Homo sapiens: one gene and its partners. The protein of the gene in region 4 purifies or fractionates together with the protein of the main gene of each other region. This does not show direct contact. Each region holds a gene or a part of one and is shown on either strand. Other genes may lie near its edges.

Region 1 (3,500 bases), on a different chromosome or scaffold from region 4:
AAACACAGCAGATGCACAAATAAATATCTACTCAATGGGCAATCATTCTGCTAATAGGAGTAACTAGTCATGCATGAATCACAGCTTGCTATTTAAACAAAGGATACACTGGGGAAATGCCCACTTAGCACACAATGTACACAACTATATTATCCTGTTACTGTAATTACGTAATCATAGTAAAACCTGAGTTTTCTGAATCTTCCAAAGTCTCATTTAAAAATAATTTTATGGCCAGGCACAGTGGCTCATGCCTGTAATCCCAGCACTTTGGGAGGCCAAGGCGGGAGGAACACTTGAAGCCAGGAGGTTTGAGACAAGCCTGGGCAACAAAGGAGACCCCCTTTTTTTTTTTTTTTTTTTTTTTTGAGAAGGAGTCTCACTCTGTCGTCCAGGCTGGAGTGCAGCAGCACCATCTTGGCTCACTGCAACTTCCACTTCCTGGGTTCAAGCGATTCTCCTGCCTCAGCCTCCTGAGTAGCTGGGATTACAGGCACGTGCCACCTCACTCGGCTAATTTTTATATTTTTGGTAGAGATGGGGTTTTGCCATGTTAGCCAGGCTGGTCTTGAACTCCGGACTTCAGGTGATCCACCCACCTCGGCCTCCCAAAGTGCTGGGACGACAGGCGTGAGCCACTGCACCTGGTTCTACAGTTTTTCTTAATAGAAAGCCATATTTTATGTCTTCAGATTAAAAAAAAATTGTTATGTTTGGCTAAGAACAAAAAAACCTTTGCTAACATAAGGGGCATACAAAAGAAAAACAATAGGAACTGCAGTTTTCAAGGACGTATACTTATAAAGTGAAAAAGAGGTGAGAAAATAGAGCAATTCTGAAAGTTTTTATAGAGATTGGTCAATTTAATCACTAATCTTTATTGTTAGCTGTAATTCATAACCTAAGAAATAATCATATGAAAGTTTTCTCAATTGATTTACTTTCTTTGTTTCTTTCTTTGTTTTTTCCTTTAGAGATAGGGTCTCAGTCTGTTGCCCAGGCTGGGAGTGTAGCGGCACTAACATGGTTCACTGCAGCTTTGACGTTCCTGGCTCAAGCAATCCTCTCACCTGAGCGTCACAAGTATCTGGGACTACAGGTGTGCACCATCACACCCAGCTAATTTTTTAATTTTTGTAAACAGGGTTTACACCATGTTGCCCAGGCTGGTCTGAAACTCCTGGGCTCAAGGGATCCACTCACCTCAGCCTCCCGAATACTGGGATTATAGGCATGAGCGACTGTACCTGGCCTCAAATGATTTTCAAAAAGAGCTGGCTCAATTTACAAGTAAACAGAAGTCCCCTTCCGGAGTTATCTTTACAGAAGAAAGCTTTACAGTTTTGCAGGAAATTTTATTTCACTGCTGAGGCTAAATGATTTTGAGATCATTAAGAGACAGGTAAAGTGGAAGAAAAAAAGAACTTATTATAAACAAGAATCAAAGTCAATTTTTCTTTTTCTTTTTTTTGAGATGGAGTTTTGCTCTTGTTGCCCAGGCTGGAATGCAATGGCACAATCGCGGCTCACTGCAACTTCCACCTCTGGGGTTCTAGCGATTCTCCTGCCTCAGCCTCCCTAGTAGCTAGGATTACAGGCATGGGCCACCACCCCCAGCTAATTTTGTATTTTTAGTAGAGACGGGGTTTCACCATGTTGGTCAGGCTGGTCTCAAACTCCTGACCTCAGATGATCCACCCGCCTTGGCTTCCTAAAGTGCTAGGATTACAGGCGTGAGCCACCGCGCCCAGCCCAAAGTCAATTTTTCAAATTAAACTTGATAATCTGGTAAGATATTCCTACTGCTTTTAGAGAACAAATCTTTCCTAAAATAAAATGTTCGGTTGATACTCACATCAACTTAACAGGAAAATAATTCTTTTACCACATTTTTTTGGGGGAAGGAAACTTACAAAGTTCTACATCTTATCACAGCTAGTTAAACGAAGTAAAAAATGTTTATAATTTACAAAATCATCTCAATATTTGGCCACCTGATACTCGATCTCAGGAGGAAAATATACGTGAGTACTTTTTCCCAGGGCCTCCACTCACATAAACTATAATGTGAACCACGGCCTCTGCAGTTGTACAACCTAGCAGCCTTGGTTTTATCTTAGAGGAAGTCAATAACCAATATGCCACTCTAAAAGTGGTACACAAGTTTCTGGACTTACCAGCAGTTTAAGCAGCCAAAACCGGGATTTATAGTAGAAAGTTTTGGTGGGGTTGATAAGGAAGAAAACCATAAATCCATAAAGGGCAAGTGGATACACATATGTGGGGATGACACTAATTGGAGCAAAGAAGCATGCCAGAAGGCTCAGGCACCACAATATCCCGAGGAATCCAGCAATCTAGTAAAGGATGGGGAAGACAGAAAGATAGAGAAAAATTGTTATTTTTACTTTTACCATTACTTAAAATATCTTTAATAAAACAAAAGTAAGAAACATGATTAGTTATTAAGCTAATAATCCTCTTCAAGTAGAGGATGGATTTAAGTACCCACTAAACCAGATAGCTATATAGCTAATGCAAACTATATTCATGAGGTGTTATGTCTTGCTTTGATTACCTCAAAGAGATGTTGATGAGACAAATTGCTTCTCGGATTAAGTTCAAAGATGAGTACATGGTTTACTCCAGCCTGTCTCCAACCATACGTGTTGATGCCCAGTAGAAAAAGGAATTCAATCAGAAGAAAGCCACCCCGATAGATTCTTATCAAGGGCCATATACTTCTATCTGTTTCAAGTTTAAATACAGCTGAAAGAATATTAAGATATTGGTCAGTTATAAAATTCATAACTTCCCTTGAATTAATAATCTTTTGTCTTCATTCTCAATGATATAGCCCTGGCATAGAAATTTTTCATAAATAAAACCTAAACCTAGATTATCTATCATCTATCTATCTATCTATCTACCTATTTATTTTTTTGAGACAGTCTCACCCTGTTGCCAGGCTGGAGTGCAATGGCGTGATCTCGGCTCACTGCAACCTCCGACTCCCTGGTTCAAGCGATTCTCCTGCCTCAGTCTCCCGAGTAACTGGGATTACAGGCACGCACCACCACGCCCAGCTAATTGTTGTATTTTTAGTACAGACAGGGTTTCACCATGTTGGCCAGGATTGTCTTCATCTCCTGACCTCGTGATCCACCCACCTTGGCCTCCCAAAGTGTTGGGATTACAGGCATGAACCACCCCGCCTGGCCAAACCTAGATTATTTTAAGAGCCTTAAAAAGTCGCCTGTGGGTTCTTTCTCGTCTTCATTTTACTCTGCAGAATGTCACTAGAATAATTTCCCAAAACTTGACTTTCAGCATGTCATCCCATTGTTCTATTAGTTTTTTAGATTACAAAGAATCATGGTGAAGTGGCTTAGAATCATGTGATCAGTTCTGTCATTTGGGGATCCGGCATGACAAAACCTCTCTTTGGCTTCATTTACTCCATTATTAAACTGGATATAGTAATATCTACCTCACAGAGT
Region 2 (3,500 bases), about 78 Mb from region 4:
GCATTCAGTTGTCCAGTAGTACTTACTCAGCACCCTTTTTTGTTGTTGTTTAATTAAGCTCTTAGAAAACATTGTTTCCTCTTCTGAAACAAGGAGTTAATATCTATTATGAAGATTAGAGAAGATAATGTGTGACAGTACCTGACAGTGCATTGCCAAATCTCTTCATAACTATGAGTGAACTTTTAAGTTCCGATTTGGTTATACGCTTTCAGTGAAATCTGATTTGGAAATTATAGTGACTTTATTATATATTTGGTATCACATTTATCCTGAATAAGTATCACATTTGTGTTTGAAAAATATCTGAATAGTTTGTTAGATAATTATGTGTCCCTCAGCCATATTGAATTTTCAAGTTTCAATCAGCTATATAAAATTTTGACCTATATAGTAGCATATGATTTCACTATAAAATGGAAATTATTTGCAACAAAGGACACTATATACAATATTAACAAATGGTTCTTTTTTGGGTTGTTTATGTTATTATTGTAGTGATAGCTCCTAGGATGTAATTTTGATTGTCCGTTAATGTATTTCCTCTAGAGGTAGTAGTTTTATTCAAGGACAAGCTACTGACACTAAAACAATTATTCTAAATTTTCAGTATTCCAAAAAAACAGTGGAAATTTATAATGCATTTATCTCCAGTAAAGGTGCTAAATTGTACAGGATGGGCATGGTGGCTCACGCCTGTAATCCCAGCACTTTGGGAGGCTGAGACAGGTAGATCACTTGAGGCCAGGAGTTCGAGACCAGCCTGGCCAACAGGGTGAAACCCCATCTCTACTAAAAACACAAATATTAGCCGGGCATAGTGGCACGTGCCTATAATAACAGCTACTCATGAGGCTGAGGCAGGAGAATCCCTTGAGCCCAGGAGGCAGAGGTTGCAGTAAGGTGAGATAGAGCCATTGCACTCCAGCCTGGGTGACACAGCAAGACGCTGTCTCAAAATAAATAAATAAATAAATAAATAATAAATAAAAATAAAAGTGCTAAATTGTACAAACATGCCAAATATCTTTGCTTTTAGGCTGTAGTCAACTATTGTGGTTAATACTGACATTCTCATGCTGGGCAGATTGAAAAGGCTATGTCTTCGATATTTTAAAAATAATGAAAATGAATTAATATTTGTTAGTATGTTTCATCATGGGGTGCACAGTAGGGAAACTTGGAAAAGGTCCTTGATGTTGTCAATGTTAGAGAATGTACTAGAAAGTGAGACGGATGTCCTTATGTTGATCCTGGGTCTTATATAGTGTTCTTTCTGATCTTGTATATTATCTTGGTTTTCTTTCACCATTTCCCTCCTATTTTTTTGTCAGAACTTGAAGTAGTTTCATATACATCCAATAGAGCTCATTTGGTAGTTATCAAAATGATTAAAGCCTTGACTTGGGATTCCAAAGTTAAGAGTCTTGAACTACCATTTCAAAGCTGCCACACTTTTCTAGTGGTCGGGTATAATATTTCATCTCCAAAAGATTGGGACTGTTTATTCCTTTGTTTTATCTTGCATGCATCTGGTGAACCATTCATCTACCCACAGCCTGCTATTTTTAGGGGACTAAGTTGGGAAGTTGAGTGGTTAATGACTGAGCTGTTTTAAATAGCTGGGCACTTAGTTAATTTGGAGATTCTTTGTCTATGTGTATCAGCTTTACAAATGAGGTCAGTCAGCACATGTCTGCTAACTGTTTCAAAAGTCTCTCTCTGCAGGAAAGTGGTTGTAAGGCCTTTTCTACAGAGAGACTTTGTTTTTGGTTTATCCTAGTCTTGTAGAATTGCAGTAACATTAGAGGCATTTTGCAGTAAGTATTATTTTAAAATATGGAATGATTGTTGTTACTAGTTTGCCCATTTTAACATTTTTAATTATCTTTGAAATAGTGCCTTCTTGGACGCATCTATCGGGGAAAAATACCAGCTGGTAATCCCTGTTCTGCCTCTAACTTGCATTGTGACGTTTTGACTTCAGTTTCCTCAAGAAAAAAATGAAGTGGAAAAAATGAATTTGTAACATCTTTTTCCATTTTAGTATTCTTGGATTCTGTCTATGTAACTGATTTTAACTGCTCTTTTAGATAAATGAGGAGCATGGGACAGGGAGGAATAGCAATGAACAATTTCAGGATTGAGACCATAATGAAAGGATTGTGTTTGATCGTTATACAATTTGAGTTCTTTGACAGACTTCACAATGGAATGGCAATTTATTTTTTAATCCTAAAGTATGAAATTATTTTTATTTTATTTTATTTTATTTTTTCAAGACGGAGTCTTGCTCTGTTGCCCAGGCTGGAGTGCAGTGCTGCAGTTGTGGTTCACTGCAACCTCTGCCTCCTGGGTTCAAGTGATTCTCCTGCCTCAGCCTCCCAAGTAGCTGGGATTACAGGTTCTTGCCACCACACCTGGCTAATTTTTGTATTTTTAGTAGAGACAGGGCTTCACCGTGTTGGCCAGGCTGGTTTCTTAACTTCTGACCTCAGGTGATCTGCCCACCTTGGCTTCCCAAAGTGCTGGGATTACAGTCATGAGCCACTGCGCCCGGCCTAAAATTATTTTTTAATCATTGGAAAAAGGTCTTTTCTAAGAAGTTGCCTTACATGCTAGTCCTTGAGATCCGGGTAGAAGCTCAAATTAAATTGTGTGACATTTCAGAATACTATTTAGTTTCAGTGGGCATGCCACCTTAATTGCTTATTTTACTATCTTGATTGTGTTCTCTAAGAGACTCATGCACAATATATGTATTTTAGAGAGTATTAGTAACAAAACAAAACCTTTTTATTCAAAAAGAATATATGAGGAGGAGGTATGACAGTACTTTCTCTGATGAAGTTTACAGATACAAAGTTTACCCTTGATATGTGTGGGAAATTGGGTACCTTTTGTTTCCAATGCTGTCAGCCCTAATTTGGGTCCTTAATACATCTCGTTTAGAGAATTATATTAGCATTTGGACTGTTCTTTCAGACTCTTTCCTTGCCAAACCAATTCTTGTATTCCTTCCAGTTTATTCTTCCTAAAATGGACTTATGCTCATGTCACTCTCTTACTTGCCTAACCAAGTAAAGTACAAACTCGTTACTCTAGGATTCAGGACCCCCTGACCTGAACCTCCAGTTCAGTATGACCTCCAACCTACCTCTCCAGCCTTAATCTCTTACTCTTACTCCCTACTTATATTACACTGATGTGCTTGGTATTTTCTGCACTTCTCTCAAGCTTTCTGCTATCGTCTGAATGTTTGTGACTCCTCCCGCAATTCATATGTTGAAATCCCAACGCCCAAGGTGATGCTATTTAGTGATGGGGCCCTTGGGAAATGATTGGGTCATGAGAGCCCTCATGAATGGAATTAATGCCCTTATAAAAGAGGCCCCAGAGAGATCCCTCATCCCTTGCACTACATAAGGTTAGAGTGAGAAGATGGCCATCTGTGAGGAAACAAGCCCTCTCCAGGCACTGAATTTCCCAGCACCTTGCTC
Region 3 (3,500 bases), on a different chromosome or scaffold from region 4:
TTCACAGAAAAAAATATATAAACAAATAGGACTTGTTTGGCCAGGCACGGTGGCCACGCCTATAATCCCAGCACTTGGGGGGACTGAGGCGGGTGGATCACTTGAGGTCAGGAGCTCGAGACCAGCCTAGTCAACATGGTGTAACCCCAACTCTACTAAAAATACAAAAATTAGCAGGGCATGGTGGCATGCACCTGTAGTCCCAGCTACTCGGGAAGCTGAGCCAGGAGAATCACTTGAACCTGGGAGGTGGAGGTTGCAGTGTGCCGAGATCACGCCACTGCACTCCAGAGCCTGGGTGACAGAGCGAGACCCTGTTTCAAAAAAACAAACAAAAACAAACAAACAAATAGGACTTGTTTAATTTTAAGTTTTTCTATGCAATGTATTTTAACTTTCAGCCCTTACTATCAGTTATTCCTTTGTTTTTTAGACACAGGGTCTCATTCTGTAGCCTTGGCTGGAGTACAAGGGCCTTATCATCATAGCTCATTGCAGCCTCAAACTCCTGGGCTTGAGATCCTCCTACTGCAGCTTCTTGAGTAGCTGGGACTACAGAATAGCTGTAGTCCCAGCGTGCATCACCACACACAGCTATTTTTTTTTTCTATAGACACGGGTCTCCCTACATTCCCCAGATTGGTCTCGAATTCTTGGCCTCAAGCAATCCTCCCACCTCGGCCTCCCAAAGCACTGGGTTTACAGGCATGAGCCACCAAACCCACCATTCTACCAGTTGTTTCTATTATAATCTAGCACAGATTGTCATCTAATGTAACACAAAGTAGTATACTTAATATATTTAACGTACTGAAAAAATTAGTATATCAACATTTCATCCTGTTTTATAAGAGCACCATGACTTTCAGGTATTCTACTTCCTGAATTGGTTTGAAAATGTATGTCCAAAATACAAAACCTTAAAAAAAAAAAAAAAGTCCACTTCCTCTTCCACATGGCAACTTCCCAAATTTTAACTATTATTTATGAAAGGATCTAGTCTAGCCAACTTTATTTCATAGATAAAGAAACTCAGATTCAGTGATTTAACTCCAATTAATATTCTCTTCTTCAGACAAAATGCCTCCAACAGTTCCTCAAATGGCATACGTTCTAGATCCTGAAAACTACAGTCTTCTCTTTTCAAGACATACTCTAGGCTGGGCACAATGGCTTACACCACAGGGAGACCTCATCTTCACAAAACCCAAAAAAATTAGCTGGGTGTGGTGGCGTGTACCTATAGTCCCAGCCACTCAGGAGGCTGCATTAGAAGAATCACTTGAGTATGGGAGGTAGAGGCTACAGTGAGCCGTGATCGCACTGCTGCACTCCACCCTAGGTAAAACAGTGTGAGACCCTGTCTTAAAAAAAAAAAAAAAAAAGACAAACTTCAGTTTCCTTACTGGTGGCCCCTCTTAGGATATACTCAAACAAAATTATTAGATGGGGTTTGATTAGAGTATAATGGAATGATGAACACTTCCTCAGCCATGCTGCAGTTAGACTGCCTTAAGACTGGCAAGTAGCCTAAGCCATGTCAGTTCAGATAGCATGCTATCAGTAAAGCTGTTGATATGCTACACTGTAGTAATCTAGCTCCACTCTCTGATTGATCCCCTGATCAAGTCATATTATTGCTTACCCAGTTTCTGACTCATATCTCTCATAATCCATTTGCTTACTACTTTAATCCTTCCCCTATATTTTTTAACTAAGATCTAGGAACTTGTTTCTGCTAAAACTAATCCTGTTTGGCAGCCTAGTTAATTAATTCCTAGAGTTTGAGCAACTAGCAGCTCTCTGTAACACCTATGTGACTTGATTACCCAGATCTTGCTAGGCAAACTTCTTCCTATCTTTAGGAAACCACCCATCCTCATTATTCCTCCAAGATACTTTCTGAAAGCACCCCAAATAAGGAAAATATCAAGATGGTACTGTGACAAATATTTTAAATACATAAGAAAAAATAAATGTAGGGAGACTTACATGGGTGTCACACCCCTGCCCCACCAAAGGAAAGGGTGGAGAACACATGTGTTGAACTAGGAGTGACCAATCTAAACTAAAAAGGTCAAGCAGGGGCAGGAAGTTGAGTTTCGCAATGAAAGCATTAACAACCTGTGCTTTGGGTTTTGAGCTGAAAAGAAACTGTTCCCAGGGTACTCTATTTTCACATTTGCTATTTGTCTTGTCATTTTCCCAACTTTATAGGCTCCTGAGTATGAATAAACTTTAAAATAACCTAGTCAAGAGGTCCCAAATGGAGGTCCAAGGGGGAAAGTTTTGAAAAAACTGGTTATCTTCCCCCTGAAATTCCATACTGTCCTTTGACACCCCTTCCTCCAAATCAGGACTGAGTAGGCCTAAACTCTCTAGGATACTGTGACATATAACTAAATTTGGGAAGCCATTTGAACCATATTTGAATATCTCCTATGACAGGGAACTTACTCCTTCCAAAATAGCATGTTGTATCACTGGAGTTTGAAAAAGGGAGGGCTGGCAGACCTTGGTGGCTCACGCCTGTAATCCCAGCACGTTGGAAGGCTGAGGCAGGCAGATCACCTGAGGTCGGGAGTTTGAGACCAATCTGACCAACATGGAGAAACCGCGTCTCTACTAAAAATACAAAATTAGCCGGTCGTGGTGGTGCATGACTGTAATCCCAGCTACTCGGGAGGCTGAGGCAATAGAATCGCTTGAACCCAGCAGGCAGAGGTTGCGGTGAGCTGAGATCACGCAATTGCACTCCAGCCTGGGCAACAAGAGAGAAACTGTCTCAAAAAAGTGAAAAAAAAAAAAAAAAAAAAAAAAAAGGGAGGGCTTTTAGAGTCAGATGGGTTTGAATGTCAGAACTTTGCTGCTTGCAAAGAGTTCTGCAGCCCTCTCCTTGACCTCCAACTTGTTATCATGAAAATTTTCAAATATACACAAAGTAAATAATAGAATAAACACCCAGGTATCCATCATCGGCTTCAACAATTATCAACATATAGCCAATCTTGTTTCATCTATAAGCCCTCCAAACCCCAATACCTCACTTGATTTTACTACATTTTAAATTCTACAGTATACATCTCTAAATATAAGATTCATTTAATTAATTGCAATACCATTATTACACCAAAATATTAACAGTAATTCCTTTTAACTTCTTTACATCTCAGTTTCCTCAACTGTAAAATAGGGATGGGTCATACTCTGGCCTCATAGGATTCTTGTGAGCTTTCTGTCTCAGTGATTAAAAAAAAAATGCAGAAGAGTCCTTTGGCTTTGGCAACATATTGGTAAAAATAATAATAAATAAAGAGTTCGGTTTGAGTATGTACAACATAGATAAAAAGCATGTAAGTTCTTGGGTTCCGAATCCCAGTCTTGGAGCTTTGGACAGTAAATAACCCACCTACCCAGAAACCTCAACTTGCTTAAGATGATGACTACATTGCATCTGGAATGGTAATATCAGCTTAGCTGGGATAATCTATTTCTCTCAG
Region 4 (3,500 bases):
CTCACCCCGCGGCCTGCCTCGCTTGGGGCTGTTGCAGGTGCTCAGCACTCCAGCCCAGCTTTTCAGACTCTTGGGCTACAGCTTCTGTTCCTTTTCCTTTTCTCTCTCTTCCCAGTCTGTCCAACCAACATTTTTTTTTTTTTTTTTGGTAGAGACAGAGTCTTGCTCTGTGACCCAGGCTGCAGTGCTGGAGGGCTGTGGCACGATCTCAGCTCACCGCAACCTCCGCCTCATGAGTTCAAGCAATTCTCCTGCCTCAGCCTCCCAGAGTAGCTGGGACTACAGGCATGCGCCACCACGCCTGGCTAATTTGTTTTGTATTTTAGTAGAGATGGGGTTTCACCACGTTGCCCAGGCTGGTCTTGAACTCCTGAGCTGAGGCAATTCGCCTGCCTCGGCTTCCCAAAGTGCTAGGATTACAGGCGTGAGCCACTGCACCCAGGCTTTTTTTCTTTTTTTTTTTTTTGAAACGGAGTCTCACTCTGTCTCCCAGGCTGGAGTGCAGTGGCATGATCTGGGCTCACTGCAGCCTCCACCTCGCATGCCCAACCATATTAAGCAGACACATGGCCTGTCTGTCCCAGGATGTTCCATCACTTCAGCTCCTGGGTTCTGGGGGCCACCCTGTGAGGCTCACTACCTCCTGGGGGCAGTATTTTATTTCATTGTGAACTCAGCTCCATCATGGACTGTGTTTTCTGGGGGAGTCGGTTGGCTTAAGCAGGGGTCTAACGTCTGTCCCCACGGGGTCCCGGCCTAGAAGCACTCAGATGAGAAGCACTGAGGACCCCGCCCCATCACTAGGGGCCTGATTCTGCCCATCTGCCCAGCGGCACCTCCTCCCGCCCCATCAAGAATCCCTCCAGCGCACTCGACAAAGCAAGAGGCCCACACCCCCCTGCGAGCCCACTGTCCTCTGTGACCTCCGGGGGAGTGGGCAGGCATTTTCTGTAAAGAGCCACCAAGCGAGGGGGACACGAGGCCCAGGCTGCTAAAGAGCAGGACGGCCCAGGAGTGATCCCTTCCTGCCGCTCTCTGACAGCCCCAGGGAAGCTTGCTGAGAGGCCACCAGTGACATCAACTCTCCCGCCTCAGAGCGCCCCACACCTCAAAATGCTTCCAGCACCCAGCACCAGGGCTCCCTCTGCTGGTGCACCCACCATGATGGCCGCCAGAGAGGGGCACCACAGCCTCTCCCCGTCTGCACTGGGCTTCCCAGCACTTCCCTGCTCCCAGGTCTCTGTACCCACGCGGCCCCCAAGGAACTGCAAACCCTCCACACAGCCCAAACCTTCCTTGTCCCACAGGGTCCTGTCCTCAGACAGGGACTCCGGGCAGCAGCTCTGACCTTCTCCCCACGCTCCACACCCACCGCCTGGGTCAGCTCCACTGCAGTGGCCCCTGGAAGTTCCGGCTTCCAGCTACCAGGGAGTGGAAACGACCCAAGGGCTGAAAAGGGGACAAAATGCAGGAGCCAAGAGTCCTGGGTCCTTGGACACAGACCCCTGCGAGATCTGCAGAGGGGCCCTGCGTGTCCTGACTGGGCCCTGAGCTGGGATGCCCAGGGGCCTCCCTGCTCCCCGTGGGTGAGGGCCGGGCCGCGTGTCTGCTCTGCCTCGAGGATCTGGTGATGGAGATGCTGCACCCTGTCCACGGCTGGGTCAGAAAAGACTCTGAGGAAAGCATCTTCCAGCCAACACGTGCTGCTCCCTCCCAGGCCTCACACTTCCACAAAGCACACGGCCCTGTGGGCCTCAGTCTCCCAGCCCCCAGGCCCTGATGCTGCCAGCAGCCACCGGTGCCTGGGAGTGGACCCTGGCCAGGCCCAGCCCTGACACAACTGCAACCAGGACGCCCAGAGCTGAGCTGAGGGTCAGAAACACAGACGCAGAGCAACTCAGGACACCCCAGGACGCCCAGAGCTGAGGGCTGGCTGACCTGGCTTGGACACCAGACCCCAGAAACAAAGACACAGGAGCAATTCATGCTGTCCTGTCAGGGGAAGAATCTAGAAAGGCGCCTGCAAACCTCAAGGAGGCCAGAGGAGCGCGTGCAGAGTGCGAAGACCTTGGCAATGGTCCCAGCATGCCCCCGGGGTCTCGGCCCTGGGCTGCGGTGGTGACCCTGCTCCTGCAGGAGCCCAGGGCCCTCAAGAGCTTGTGGCTCCCCACTGAAGTGGGCAGAGACCCCCAGGGTGCAGGGTCCGGACGAAGCAGCACAGCCACATGCCACCCTCCTCTCTGTGGGGGGATTTGGGGCTCACATGTGCCTCCCTCCCCTCTGTGATAGGAAACTTGGGGTTCAGGTGTGCCTCCCGCCCCTCTGTGATAGGAGACTTGGGGTTCACATGTGCCTCCCTCCCCTCTGCGGGGGATCTGGGGCTCACGTGTGCCTCCCTCCCCTCTGTGATAGGAGACTTAGGGTTCACGTGTGCCTCCCTCCCTTCTGCAGGGGATCTGGGGCTCACATGTGCCTCCCTCCCCTCTGCGGGGGATCTGGGGCTCATGTGTGCCTCCTTCACCACTGCGGGGGATTTGGGGCTCACGTGTGCCTCCCTCACCTCTGTGATGGGAGACTTGGGGTTCACGTTGCGGGCGGCCGCGATCTCCTGCAGCTGGTGCACCACCTCGGCGATGGACAGCCGCTCCTCCGGGTTCACCTGCAGCATGGCGCCTGCAGCAGAAGCACAGCGCGCTCGGCCCCACGGTTCCCCAGGCGGGTCAGCACCCCCTGCACTGGCAGAGGTCACAGACCACCAGAGGCCACTCCCTCTACACACATCAGTGACGTCAGAAGCAAGAAGGGAGCGGCAAAGGGAAGAACAAAAACCGAACAAAATGATCAAAAATCACCACTCAGAGCACCGCAAATTCACCAGCGGGGTGGGCGGCAGGGGAGCTCTCTGGAAACCCCCCCCCCAGGGATGTTGTCAAAACTATGGTGACGGGCGGGAGTGGGGCCAGGTGAGCAGTGCCCCAAGGGGAGCGGGGTCTCCAGAGCCACGCGGGGTCTGTGCTCCAGGGTCCTGCCCCACGCACGCATTCCACCGGGACTTACGGATGAGGCTGTGGAAGACCGTGTACTGCGTGTCGTGCGGGGGGATCGAGTACTTCCCATTGACTATTCGAAGTTTCGCTCCATCCTCAAAAGGGTGCTGCCGGAAGCACAGCAGGTACAAGATGCAGCCCAGGGCCTGCGGGGAGAGCAGGGGTGATGCCTAGGCCCACGGGGAGCGCAGGGGTGACGCCTGGGCCTGCGGGGAGAGCAGGGGTGATGCCCAGGCCCACGGGGAATGCAGGGGTGACATCGGAGCCGTGGGGAGCGCAGGGGTGACACTGGGGACTGCAGGGAACACAGGGGTGATATCGGGAACATGGGAAATGCAGGGGTGACACCGGGGCCTGCGGGAACAACAGGGGTGACACCCGGGCCGCGGGGAGCGCAGGGGTGACGTTGGGGCCGTGGGGAGCGCAGGGGTGACGCCTGGGCCTGTGGGGAGT

The links. Proteins that work in one complex are often made in the same cells at the same time.
Region 1: the proteins of GAK (region 4) and XPR1 purify together in Homo sapiens (affinity purification with mass spectrometry; one large-scale study listed by BioGRID and IntAct). This does not show direct contact.
Region 2: the proteins of GAK (region 4) and BMP2K purify together in Homo sapiens (affinity purification with mass spectrometry; one large-scale study listed by BioGRID and IntAct). This does not show direct contact.
Region 3: the proteins of GAK (region 4) and PIK3C2A purify together in Homo sapiens (affinity purification with mass spectrometry; one large-scale study listed by BioGRID and IntAct). This does not show direct contact.

The regions. Positions count from the first base shown.
Region 1 is NC_000001.11:180,824,022-180,827,521, reverse strand, and holds part of XPR1 (solute carrier family 53 member 1), read right to left. Parts: intron 2,770-3,500; coding exon 2,579-2,769; intron 2,358-2,578; coding exon 2,178-2,357; intron 1-2,177. UniProt on the Homo sapiens protein: Inorganic ion transporter that mediates phosphate ion export across plasma membrane.
Region 2 is NC_000004.12:78,782,850-78,786,349, forward strand, and holds part of BMP2K (BMP-2-inducible protein kinase), read left to right. Parts: intron 1-3,500. UniProt on the Homo sapiens protein: May be involved in osteoblast differentiation.
Region 3 is NC_000011.10:17,162,987-17,166,486, forward strand, and holds part of PIK3C2A (phosphatidylinositol 4-phosphate 3-kinase C2 domain-containing subunit alpha), read right to left. Parts: intron 1-3,500.
Region 4 is NC_000004.12:890,817-894,316, forward strand, and holds part of GAK (cyclin-G-associated kinase), read right to left. Parts: intron 3,194-3,500; coding exon 3,058-3,193; intron 2,674-3,057; coding exon 2,561-2,673; intron 1-2,560. UniProt on the Homo sapiens protein: Associates with cyclin G and CDK5. Seems to act as an auxilin homolog that is involved in the uncoating of clathrin-coated vesicles by Hsc70 in non-neuronal cells. Expression oscillates slightly during the cell cycle, peaking at G1.